Linked DNA regions of Homo sapiens: region 1 is linked to region 2. The links come from fine-mapping of genetic effects on gene expression. Tissue or cell type: whole blood. Region 2 holds a variant in brackets; the other region holds the start of a gene. All regions are shown on one strand. Distances are between the middles of the regions.

Region 1 (5,386 bases), 110 kb after region 2:
AAAAGACAGAAAAAAAAAGAATATTTTGCCTCAAAAAGCTCTTAAGAGACTATGTAATAAAAGAAAAAATATGAATCAGAAAAGGAAAGAAATAGAAACACGTGATACTGGAAGGAGGAGCTAAATTTCTCTTGGAGAAACTGTTAGTCATCATCTCAATACTCTATTGCATCTGTCAGTGTGTTGAAAAATGCTCAGAGTTAGATTGAGCAGGAAAAACAAATGCCAGGAAAAAAGAGCCAAGAGTTAAATCAGGATACAAGTAAGAATGAAAGAGAGGCTGAGTTCACAAAGAAAAGAACAATAAAGGAAAAAGAATGGGAATGTTGGTGGCTGCCAAGTATTTGAGAACTGAATAGGGTATGGAGAAAAAAATTCTTGATTTAAGAATAATGAAAGAAGGTTAGGTGTCAGATGTTTGTGTCTGGAAGTTCCTGTTAGAAAAAGCTGTTACAGTTTTAAAATAAGTTATTTAGTCAAGATAATGAAGATTAAGTCAGAGCACCATAAAAAATATTAACTGTTATCCTTTGAAGCAGAATGATAATACTAATTCAAAAACATGGAAGTGAAAAAATTATCCTGTCCTATACAAGAAAAAATTTTAAACAGAGATAAAAAACCATAATTATTCACACTAAATTAGCAACAAAGAGGAAACATGTATGATAGGCTAAATAAAAAACTCAGACGCAAAATTATGAACAAATTTCACTAAGTAATATATGTACAATAAATACTGTTAGAAAAATGAACAACAGTTTAAAGAATTATGATAGCATATAGGATAACCAGCAATTTTTGTGTCTTTTTACAAATGTATTGTTATGAGTTGTCATTATCATTTTAAATGGGAAATAAGATCAGTTATGAATTGAATACAGTAAAATTTAAGAGCCAAAACCTTAGACGGCCTTCAAAAGAAAATCTAAATGATGAGAAAACTATAAAAATCTAACAAACTTTTTATTGAATAAAGGTGTTAGAAACAATGATTTATTTATAGCAATTCATTCATTCGAAAAGTTTACTAAGTATACAAAAATTAATATACTTTATAAAGAAAAGTTACCCCAAGTTCCTTTCTTCCCCCAACGTTTAAAGGTAATCAGAGCATATTGTTTTCCTCAGCTTTAAAAATCTGTAACAAAGGATCCAAGAAGACAAGAAAGAAACAAAAAAATACTTCAAATTTTGCATATAAAATTTTACATCTTTCCCAGGTGACCTCGAAACTCAAATGTCAGAACCAAAGGCAGAAGCAGGTATCTGGGCAGTGCCAACTGTCAGGGAGGATGCAAAGAGAAGTCGTCACCAGAGAAACCAGGGTCCGAAATGCAACCAGCAACAGGGAAATGTGAAGCCTTAAACAGGAAATAAAAGCCTGGGTTTCTTTAGACTATGGTTGGGATAAGGAAGGGGAGTACAGGGGTGATAAACTTTAGCAATATTCCCAGAAAGTGTTGGCGCCTTTGACAGAAGCATGGGAAAGAAGGCATCCGGGTAGAGGCTCTTCACTATTTGCTGGTGGAGGGATCATAGACCCCTCTGAGATCTTATGGACCCTCTCCCCAGAGCACGTACCGGGCAGTATTTACTCCATTTCAGGAGTTCCACAGCCTTGGGGTAGGAGCCCCTGCCTAGGAGATAATAAGACTGACGCTGCCTGATATTCTCACGCCCGCATTCATTCATTCGAACAGGGGATCCCTTTTGTCACGCAAGCAGCTCTACCCTCAGCATCCTACCCGTAACAGGAGCTCCATAAACACTTGTTGACTGACTGCTTGTATCGAGTGCTGAGCTGGAAACAGAGGTGATGAACAGGTATGATATTAAAATAGCAACTAGAGTGTACTGAGTGGACACTGTGCTCTAAAGGTTTTATGTGTATTTTCACATTTAATATGTATTTTCACATTTCTCCCTTTGCGGCGGCCCTTTTCAATACCCATCTTACAGATGAAGCTTAAACTGATTAGCAATTTGCCCTCCAATGACCCGACGACTAAGTGGCAGAGCCCCAATTCTCACCCGGGGAATACTGATTCCAGAGCTACGCTCCTGGGAGCTCACGATGCAGTAGAAGCATCAGAAACGGTAAAGGGGGTGGGAGGGGAGGAGTAAGTGTGACCCAGACTACAAGTAAGAGGAGCTAAGATGCCTTGGCAAATCCCTGCCAGTCCTGAGAGGCGGGAAGCTGAAAGGCTGGCCCGAGTCTTGCAGGAGTTCGCAATCCAGGCGGGGAGTTAGGAAGTGACTCTTTTTTAAGGGGGAGCTGGACAGCTCTCGTCGGCCTTCACCAAGCGCCCACTTCGTGTCCGGCCTCAGGCCACACAACCAGAAGGGCCCGGGCCTAGAAGCCCGAGGGCTCGGGGTAACGAGGCGACGCCGGGCGGCGGGGAGGAGGCCGGGGACCGCCGGGGTTCCTGCAGGCCTGGGACGGCGGGCCTGCTCGAGGACTGACCTTCCCGGAGGCGCCGTCCCCCAGCACGACGATTTTCAGTTGCCGGTCCTGGCTCTCCTCCTCAGAGTCCGACATGGTGTCCCGGGAACCAGGCCCGCCCCTCGAGGTGGGGGGGGAAGGGAAGGATGAAGGCTCCGGGGGCGGGGGAGAGGAGGAAGGGAGGTAGTTGCGGCAGGACCCCCGCCCCGGTGTCTCCGCGCCGGCAGGAGGTATTCGAGGAGAATCACTCGGCAAGCGCCATCTTGCCCACCTCCCCGCCCTCTGCGCGCGGCCCCGCCCCCTACGCGCACGTCGGGCGCGCGCCCCCGCCTCAGAGCCAACCCGCGCCGACCGGCGGCCCCGCCTGACGAGCCGAACCACTCGCGGCCCTGGACTGGTGTGGGGGACATTCCGGCGGGAGAGGCGAGGCGCTGCGTTTCCCTTCAGGAGACAGTTGGCTAGAAGAAGAAAAGAAGTGTTCGTTCAAATTAAGGAGAGAAAACGGGAGCAGAGCAGCTTTCAGGCGTTCCATCAAATTCCCTTTTCTCCTTCCCTCTTGAGAAAGTCTCTGAAGGGAATGGTTCAGCCTGACGGGGTGGAGCAGTGACGCCCGGGCTACGCGCCAGGGTTGCCTGGCAGCCAGGAGTTCGAGGACCGGCGGCGGGGCGGGGCCTGTCTCCGGGCACCCGGGACGCCCGTAGCCTGGCGGAGAGCGCCAGAGAGGGCCCCTGAAAAACCGGACCAGGGAAGAGGGTACCTCGGGGCGGATGAGGGGACAGCTGCTAAGGGCCGAGGCTGCTGGGAAGCCTCAGTAGCGGCCGTGAATACAGTGGAGCTCCGGCGCTGCTTATTTCGGCCTAACTCTTGGTTTCCTCATCTGAACAACCCCAGGCTCCCATGGTTCGTTCATCAGACGCTACTGATCGCCAACCTCCTGGCACCCCATCTTTACCCTAAGGCAGCAGTTCTCATAAAGTGTGGTCTAGGGACCTCTGGAAATCCCGATGACCTCAGAACAATTTTCATAATAATACGGACACCTTGTCTGTCTTTCTCACGTTCCTTCTCTCACTAGTATACCGTTTCCTGGAGGATACGCTTTGTGTACGACGTCATCACTGGCAGCTAAGGGAGCTTGCGTTTGTTGTTTTTAAACATTTCTCAGTTTTCATTTCAATGCAGTAGTGATAGGTGTAACCCACATAAACATAAGCTCTTTGGAGGTCACAGTAATTCTTTAACATTATAGAGAGGCCCTGAGTCCAAAAAATTTAAGAACTGCTGCCCTGGATAATCTCAGTCCAGGAGCGTTAGGTAAACGGCATAAATGAAATTTACAATTTAGTGAGGTAAATTCAAAAATAATAATGCTGTCCTGCTATGGTTGTTTCATTGTTAATCACTTAAAATTTATTGTTACCTTTACTACTATTAGGAATTATGAAGTATAATTATCCCCATTTTGCAGATGAAGTATCTTAAGTTAACAAAATGCTTAGCCCAGAGGCAGTAGTCTTGGAGACCATATGGGCATTAGAACAGGAAAGCAGAACAGTGTAAAGAAATGCCCAGACCTAGAGGCATCACTGGAGTTTAATCTCATGTTTACTAGATATGTGTCCTCGAGCCTCAGTTAGTTCACCTGTAGAACAGACTACTGCCTTTGTGTAGGTTTGAAAATTAAATGAAATAATCGGCATAAAGTAGATAGCACAATGCCTGGTGTGTAGTAAGCACTCAATATTAACCAGTGTAACTATCACCCTCATCATCATCATAATTAGATGATGGTCCGTGTTGGAAGTGTCACTACTTTCTAGCCAATTTACCTTATACAAGTTTCTTATGTAGAGCCTCAGTCTCTTCATCTGCAGAGAGGGCTGGCCCACAATTATAGGTACCCAGTTAAGTATTAGTACCCAATTCTTTCCCCAATCCCGCACCACCATTGCCACCACCAATTTTCTATTCACCAGATTTATTCATAAGAATTAGAAGAAAGAGGATATGTACTTGTTAGTGAGAAGAATCTACTTCCAGTGAGGACAGACTTAACCACTTCTTGTCCATGAGGGCAGTTAAAATGCAAGAAAATTTCTTTTCCAGTCTTCCTTAGATAGCTATGTGATCCACCGGACTAATGAGACAGAAGACAGTGTCCTTTGGAAGACATTTGTAAAAGAACCCTCCCCCCACCATTTAAAAAAAAGGAAAAGAAAAAAGGAGAGTTACAGGGGAGTCCTCCTCCTCCCTTCCTTTGCTGTCATTATTAGGTAAGAACAGGATTTTTGGAACTACTACACTTTGTTCACTCTATCTTCTCGGTTTCTTGTTATGGGAAATAATAATATGGTACTTTGGCGATGAATTGTGTTACCTACAAACAAAAAAATTCCAACTGACATAACTACTTCGGCCAAAAACTAGATTTAGCTGAACTCATAGGCCTGATTTTCATATGTGGTTTTATATGAAGGGAAATCTAGAAGAAAGCTTCTCATTTTCCACTCATCAATTTCTGAGATGACTGCTTTGATTGAGAGACAACATTCATTTGGATATGGGTACATCAATAGGATAGTGTTATATAAAACAAAAAGTTGCACTATTTTAGGGATCATATTTTACACATATGGCAAGTTTCTGGGTTAAAAGTTAGAATTTAAAGACTTAGAGCCATTTTTATAAAGAAAAAGAAAAAAAAACTTTCTATGTGAGGAGGACCATTTTAGCATTGAGAGCTTCCAGTATGATACTCTGACATACTAAAGAAACATAGAGCTGATCCACCAAAAAGAATATATCTTTGTGGATTCTCATGTACAATGCTCTTAACAGGGTCAAAAATTAGAGGAATGGTCTTCAGTCATTTTAAAACTAATAGACAAAAGGTTTATAAGAATTCTAGACATTGTATAAAATATCTTTTATAGCATCTCT
Region 2 (5,386 bases):
CTCTTCCTTGCAAAGCTTGCAAAGTGTGTTGATAACTCATTTTATATAACTCCCAAATAGGAGCAATCTAGGTTAGAAATAAACTAGCAGAATCTCTTTAAATTGTCAGTGAATGAAACTAGGACTAAAACCTCACTGTAAATATTTATGTCACAAACTAAATTATTATAGTAGAGCATCAACATCAATGGGACTGGTGAGTCTGCCATTTAACTCCTTCTCTATAGAATAATACAAAGTACTTTCAAACATTCCCTTGAATCCCCCCAGTAATCTTTCAAATGTCGCAACAACCACATGCAGTGTGTATGTGTGTGTATATATATGTATGTATGTATGTATGTGTGTGTGTGTATATATGTGTGTGTGTATATATATATAATCTGCACTTCTTAGTCTTTTAGATGAACTTGCCAAAATGTTTCCACTGAGAAATATGAATTGTAAAATCAATAATTTAATTGGCAAAAACACCAAATTCATCAGGATCAAGAAAGACTAATAAGGATTCTTGCTATACACAAAGAATTTTGACAAACATATAGAAGAGTGCTGCAGTAACTTGAATTCACCTTCAAATGAATGCATTAAGAGTAAATGCCACCAACAAACTGAAGATAGAATTAAACCTCAAAGCATAATAAACAAAGTAGATGTGCAGGGAGGGTAGGGAACTATGTAGTTAACACATCTAATATCTCTTTATTTAAAACACACTAGGATATTAAGCCCATATCTAAAGTCAAAATAGTAACCCTGTTGATCTTGCAACATGAGGGACCTAATGTTAATAAAGCTTCCCCCAAATTTTGCCTCCAGTTGTTTCATTTCTCCAGAGGTCTCCTTGTATCTGATCACCACTGCACAGCTCAGGCAGTACAAGGAATCCTTCCTCAGTGCAGCCCTCTCACCTGTGAAGCACCAGCCCACCATTCCCCTTTTCAGAAAGACAACCAATCATTGGGTTTCTCCTGTCTTCATTCCTCCAGGCAAGAAACCTCAGGGTTATCTCAGACTTCTATCCTCTCTTATCCAATAATTCCACAAGCCCTATTGGTTCTTCTTTAAAATCTCCCTTACATCCATCCAACCTTTCCATTCCATCTTGACTTTGGTCTTTTTCACATGGTAGCAGTAACTCAGTCTCCTTACCTCAATCTCCCTCCCATCCAACGACATATAAAAATATCCCATTAGATTAATTCTACCTAAAAACTGCTTTCATTTATTGCCCTACCTCAAAATGATTATAGGTCTAATAAAATTAATCAACTTGGCATTCATAAATCCCCAAAATCTGTTCTCAAACTCTTTATACTCTAACACAAATGGTCATTTATTTTAACCAAACTGCTCTTCTGTTTCCAAAATACAACCTAACCTTTTCTACCCAGGTATATTATTCATACCAGCTCCTCTTTCAGCCATTTTCTCCCTTCCCACTCCAAACTGCCCAGTACACTTTCCCCCAGTATGGCAGAGTGGAAATACCAAGGGCATTGGTGTCAGAGAGACCTGGGTGCAAATTCTGGCTCCACCACTGCCCAATTAATGGTTAGTGATCAAGTTACTGAGTCTCTCCACAGTCTCAGCTTCCTGATCATAAAATGATAAAATTTCACCTGATCCAGGGAGTTATTATGAGGATAACTGAGATAACACAGTCCCCCTGGCACATAACCTATTAATTTTCTTTACTAAAAGCAGGGACATTTTAAAGTCTTTTAATTCTTTTTTAGACCCACCACTATACTGAGTTTACAATGTATGACCAATAAATCACTTATGATAATCATAGACTCTCTAACTAAGCAGAGACAAACATTATTTAGACAGAGAAGCTAAAAAGCAAACAAATTACTTGACCTCTGGGATCCAAGGTCTGTGTGATCAAGCAAATCATGGTGACTTCTCTTTCCTATATTCTCCTAGGCCCAAAACAAGTAACCACTTTTTCTGTGTCTGGGAGCTATTTAAACATCACAAAGTATCTTAGCACTGTATTTGGCCATACCAAGTGCTAAAACAAATGTCTTTGAATGA[T/C]GGGAATTAAAACTAGCAAACTTTTAGAGTTTCAAATGTTTTAATCAAGTCTTAGAAACAGCCATATCAGTGTAACAATTTCAAATATTTGCTTCAATTGTTTTAAAACACACACACACACACACACACACACAGAGAGAGAGAGAGACCATGAGAAAAAGATACAGAACTAACTCTAAAAGAATTCAAGAAAAATTTAAGGATGGGAAAAGATAATTATACTTTTTTAGTTGCACAGGGTGCGAATGGGGTGGAAGAAATTGAGCAAAAATGTAATTAGTTTGTTACTTCTAACCAAACCACTTCTGAAGCATAACTTTATAGGCTCTTACTCTGATTTTTCATTCTATCAAACATATGAATTAGTGGGAAATTATAGTGGTACTTTAAATTTCTTGGCTGCCGCTATGCATGTTTTTTTCTTAGCCTAAGAAAACTATCTAGGAATAGTGAAAAAACATAGAAATCCTTACTAATTAATAACACTACTAAACTGACAATAAAATAACATCAAAAACTAATATCACTACAGTCAAGGATGTTTTAAAATTGAATAGAGGCTCCAAAAGGATTTAAATAAAGAAGTGCCAAACAATGTGGTCAGCACCTTAACTCATTAGTTAACCACTAATAAAAATTTTCTTATACTAGTATCTTTTTCCCAACAAAAGAGACAAAATGAGGTTTCAAGGGTATCATAATTTGGCAAAAAGTTAACATTCTCCATCTTCTGCAATAAACACTGATTCATACATACAATCTATTCCCAAAGCTTTTAGAGATACGTACACAGAAGGCATAAATGGGAAAGAATTTATGGGTGAAAATTAATGCCTTGTAAGAAATTCATTAATTTTTTAAATATAAAGTTCAAGGTAATCACCTGTGACTGTTCTATTTCTGCTTTGTTTAATTTGATCCCAAGGATTTCAGCAGCAACTTTCTGAAAGCACAGGAAGACCTACATAACAAAAATGGGTTTAAATGATTTAAAAGAGGCATGCTTAAGTTATCTTCAAATAAACAGAATTTTCTTAAAAATGATAAACAGCAATAATTGCAAAAATATGATATAGCAGGTGATTCCAAAAATAGCTTTATTTGTCAAATGTAGCAACATTTTAAATATAATAATTTTTAAATTATAAAGCCATAATTTAAAACTCCATGCAATTCAATGAATTGATCATTTTCTCTAAACACACACATGAAAGATTTAACATGATGATTACAGCTACCACTTTAAAAAACAACAAAACAATCCTACTTACTACTATAAAAACTCCCATAATTCCTGAAGAAAATAAAAATAATCTATACTTTACCAACCTAGTTTTTCACTGTCGGTTTTATCTTGGTCCTTTTAGCCACCTTTGGCCTATCTCAAAAGGTCTTAGTTTCTAACACTTTAATACTCTCTGTGCCTTTCATATCATTCCAGCAAATTCTCCATGTTTCTTGAGTAAAGCAACTTGGTACTGTTTACTATATTTTATCAGTTCAGAGCAAAGGAAAAATATATGCCATTACGATTAAACAAAAATAGACAAATATTTTTCTATAAATAGCCTTTCCACACATAGTTAGCTTATGTCAGGTCTGCTGTAATTACTAGAGTTCCAATCCTGACATTTACTGTAGTATAACTTATCTTTTCTTCATAAATGTCCTACCATATTCTTATCCCTATTCATCACATGCTTATAGAATATTTATCAAAACTTTATTAATTTTTACTTCTAACAAAAAAGGATACATATTCCTGATAGCCTTATGCCACTTGTACCCTAAGAAGCATATTTTAGTTCACTGATGGTCAATGGTCAAGGAACAACAGGAAAAGTACTGTGGTGGAGTGGAGAGAAAGAGTGGTTATAAAAGAAGACGAGCAAAGAGATGAAGGGAGTACAAACCATGTAAAATCTGGTAGGCTACTGGAAGGACTTTGGCGTTTACTCCAAATGAAATGGAAGGCATGGGAGGGTGGCCCAATGTGACTTTTATTTTAACAGCATTAGTCTGGTTGTTTGTATTGAACATTCACTATAGGAGACCAAGTGTACAAAAACAGAATCAGCAAAGAAACTAATGTAAAATATTATGGAGGCTGAACCAAAGTGGTAGAAGTGGACAAAGTAAGAAACAGTCATCAGGTTCTGGATATATTTTCAAAGTACAGCCAAGGGGATTTGGTGACAGATGTGGGGTGTGAGAGAAAAAGAGGAGTCAAGAAAGGCTCCAAAGTTTTTTTGGCCTGAGCAACTGGTAGATCTGCTATTTATTAAAGTGAGGAAGACTGTGAGAGATTTGAGGAGGGAATAGCAAGAGCTCAGTTCTAAACATGTTAAATTGGGCAGCCTATTAGACATCTAAGAGGAGATGCTGAGCGGGCAGTTGGATATAAGAGTCTACAGTTCAGGGGAAAAGTCTGAGCAAAGCCAGAAGACTAAATAAAGCCATTAGGAATAAGTGTAGAAAAAGAGATTATCAAAGGACTGAACCTTAGTTGGCTGGAGACATAAGAAAATTAGTCAAGGGGACTGACAGAGTAGTTAGTGAAGCAGGAAGAAAACCAGGAGGCGTTGTATCCTGGAAGCTAAGTGCAGAGAGTATTTCAAAGAGACGAGAGTGATCAGCAATTATTTATGTTGCTACTTAATAAAATAAGATGAGGGCTGAGTACTGACCATTGGATTCAGCAAAAAGGAGGCCATTGATGACGTGAATAATAGCAGTTTGGGTAAAATACTGAGGGCAAAAGTCTGCTGGAACTGGAAGAGAAACTGGCAAAAGAAGAACTAGAGACAATTCTTTAAAACATCCACTGGAAAGTGAAGGAAGGAAATAAGGCAACAGCTAGAGAAAAAATGTGGCATCAAGAGTTTTCTTGTTTTTAAGATAAAAGAAGTCATAATATTTTCTGTGTTGAAAGAATAATCCAGTAGGTGGAAAAAAAATAATACATATGAAAGAGAGAGAACTGCTAAAGCAATATCCTTGATTCAGCAAAGATAAATGGGACTAGTACACAATGGAGAAGTTGGCCCTAGCTAGAATAGATCCCATAGTAACCACAGAGAAGACAGAAGATATGAGAACAGATGGGGTAAGTAGGATGAGGTTAGACCTGGTAGCAGCAGTATGTAGAAGTTGTCTTCTGTTTGTTTCAAATTTCTTATAAAATAGGAAACAAGGTCATCAGCTGATAGAATAGAGGAGGATAGTTTGAACATTTGAAGAGAGAAGAGAAGCTATGAAATAGTCATCGGCCTGGTGCATTGGCTCACACCTGTAACCCCAACACTTTGGGAGACTGAGGCGGGTGAATCACGAGGTCAGTTCA

Evidence for each region. PIP is the estimated chance that this variant, and not a neighbour inherited with it, causes the effect.
Region 1: it holds the start of RAB28, and the variant in region 2 is fine-mapped to the expression of RAB28 in whole blood (TOPMed, PIP above 0.99).

What each region holds. Positions count from the first base shown.
Region 1 is chr4:13,481,609-13,486,994 of GRCh38, forward strand. It overlaps RAB28 (RAB28, member RAS oncogene family), which reads right to left and starts at 2,732. Exons shown (of 7, transcript NM_001017979.3): 1 at 2,468-2,732. The coding sequence starts at 2,542. It overlaps LOC105374495 (a long non-coding RNA gene), which reads left to right and starts at 2,841. Exons shown (of 3, transcript XR_925413.1): 1 at 2,841-3,346; 2 at 4,553-4,719. RefSeq lists silencers at 2,264-2,883, 2,877-3,171, 3,134-3,193 and enhancers at 2,617-2,911, 2,707-3,614, 2,874-2,993.
Region 2 is chr4:13,373,619-13,379,004 of GRCh38, forward strand. It overlaps RAB28 (RAB28, member RAS oncogene family), which reads right to left. Exons shown (of 7, transcript NM_001017979.3): 6 at 2,927-3,004. Among named protein-coding and RNA genes, the nearest start is that of RAB28, 110 kb to the right of the region's middle. The variant T/C (reference allele first, on the strand shown) is at 2,044.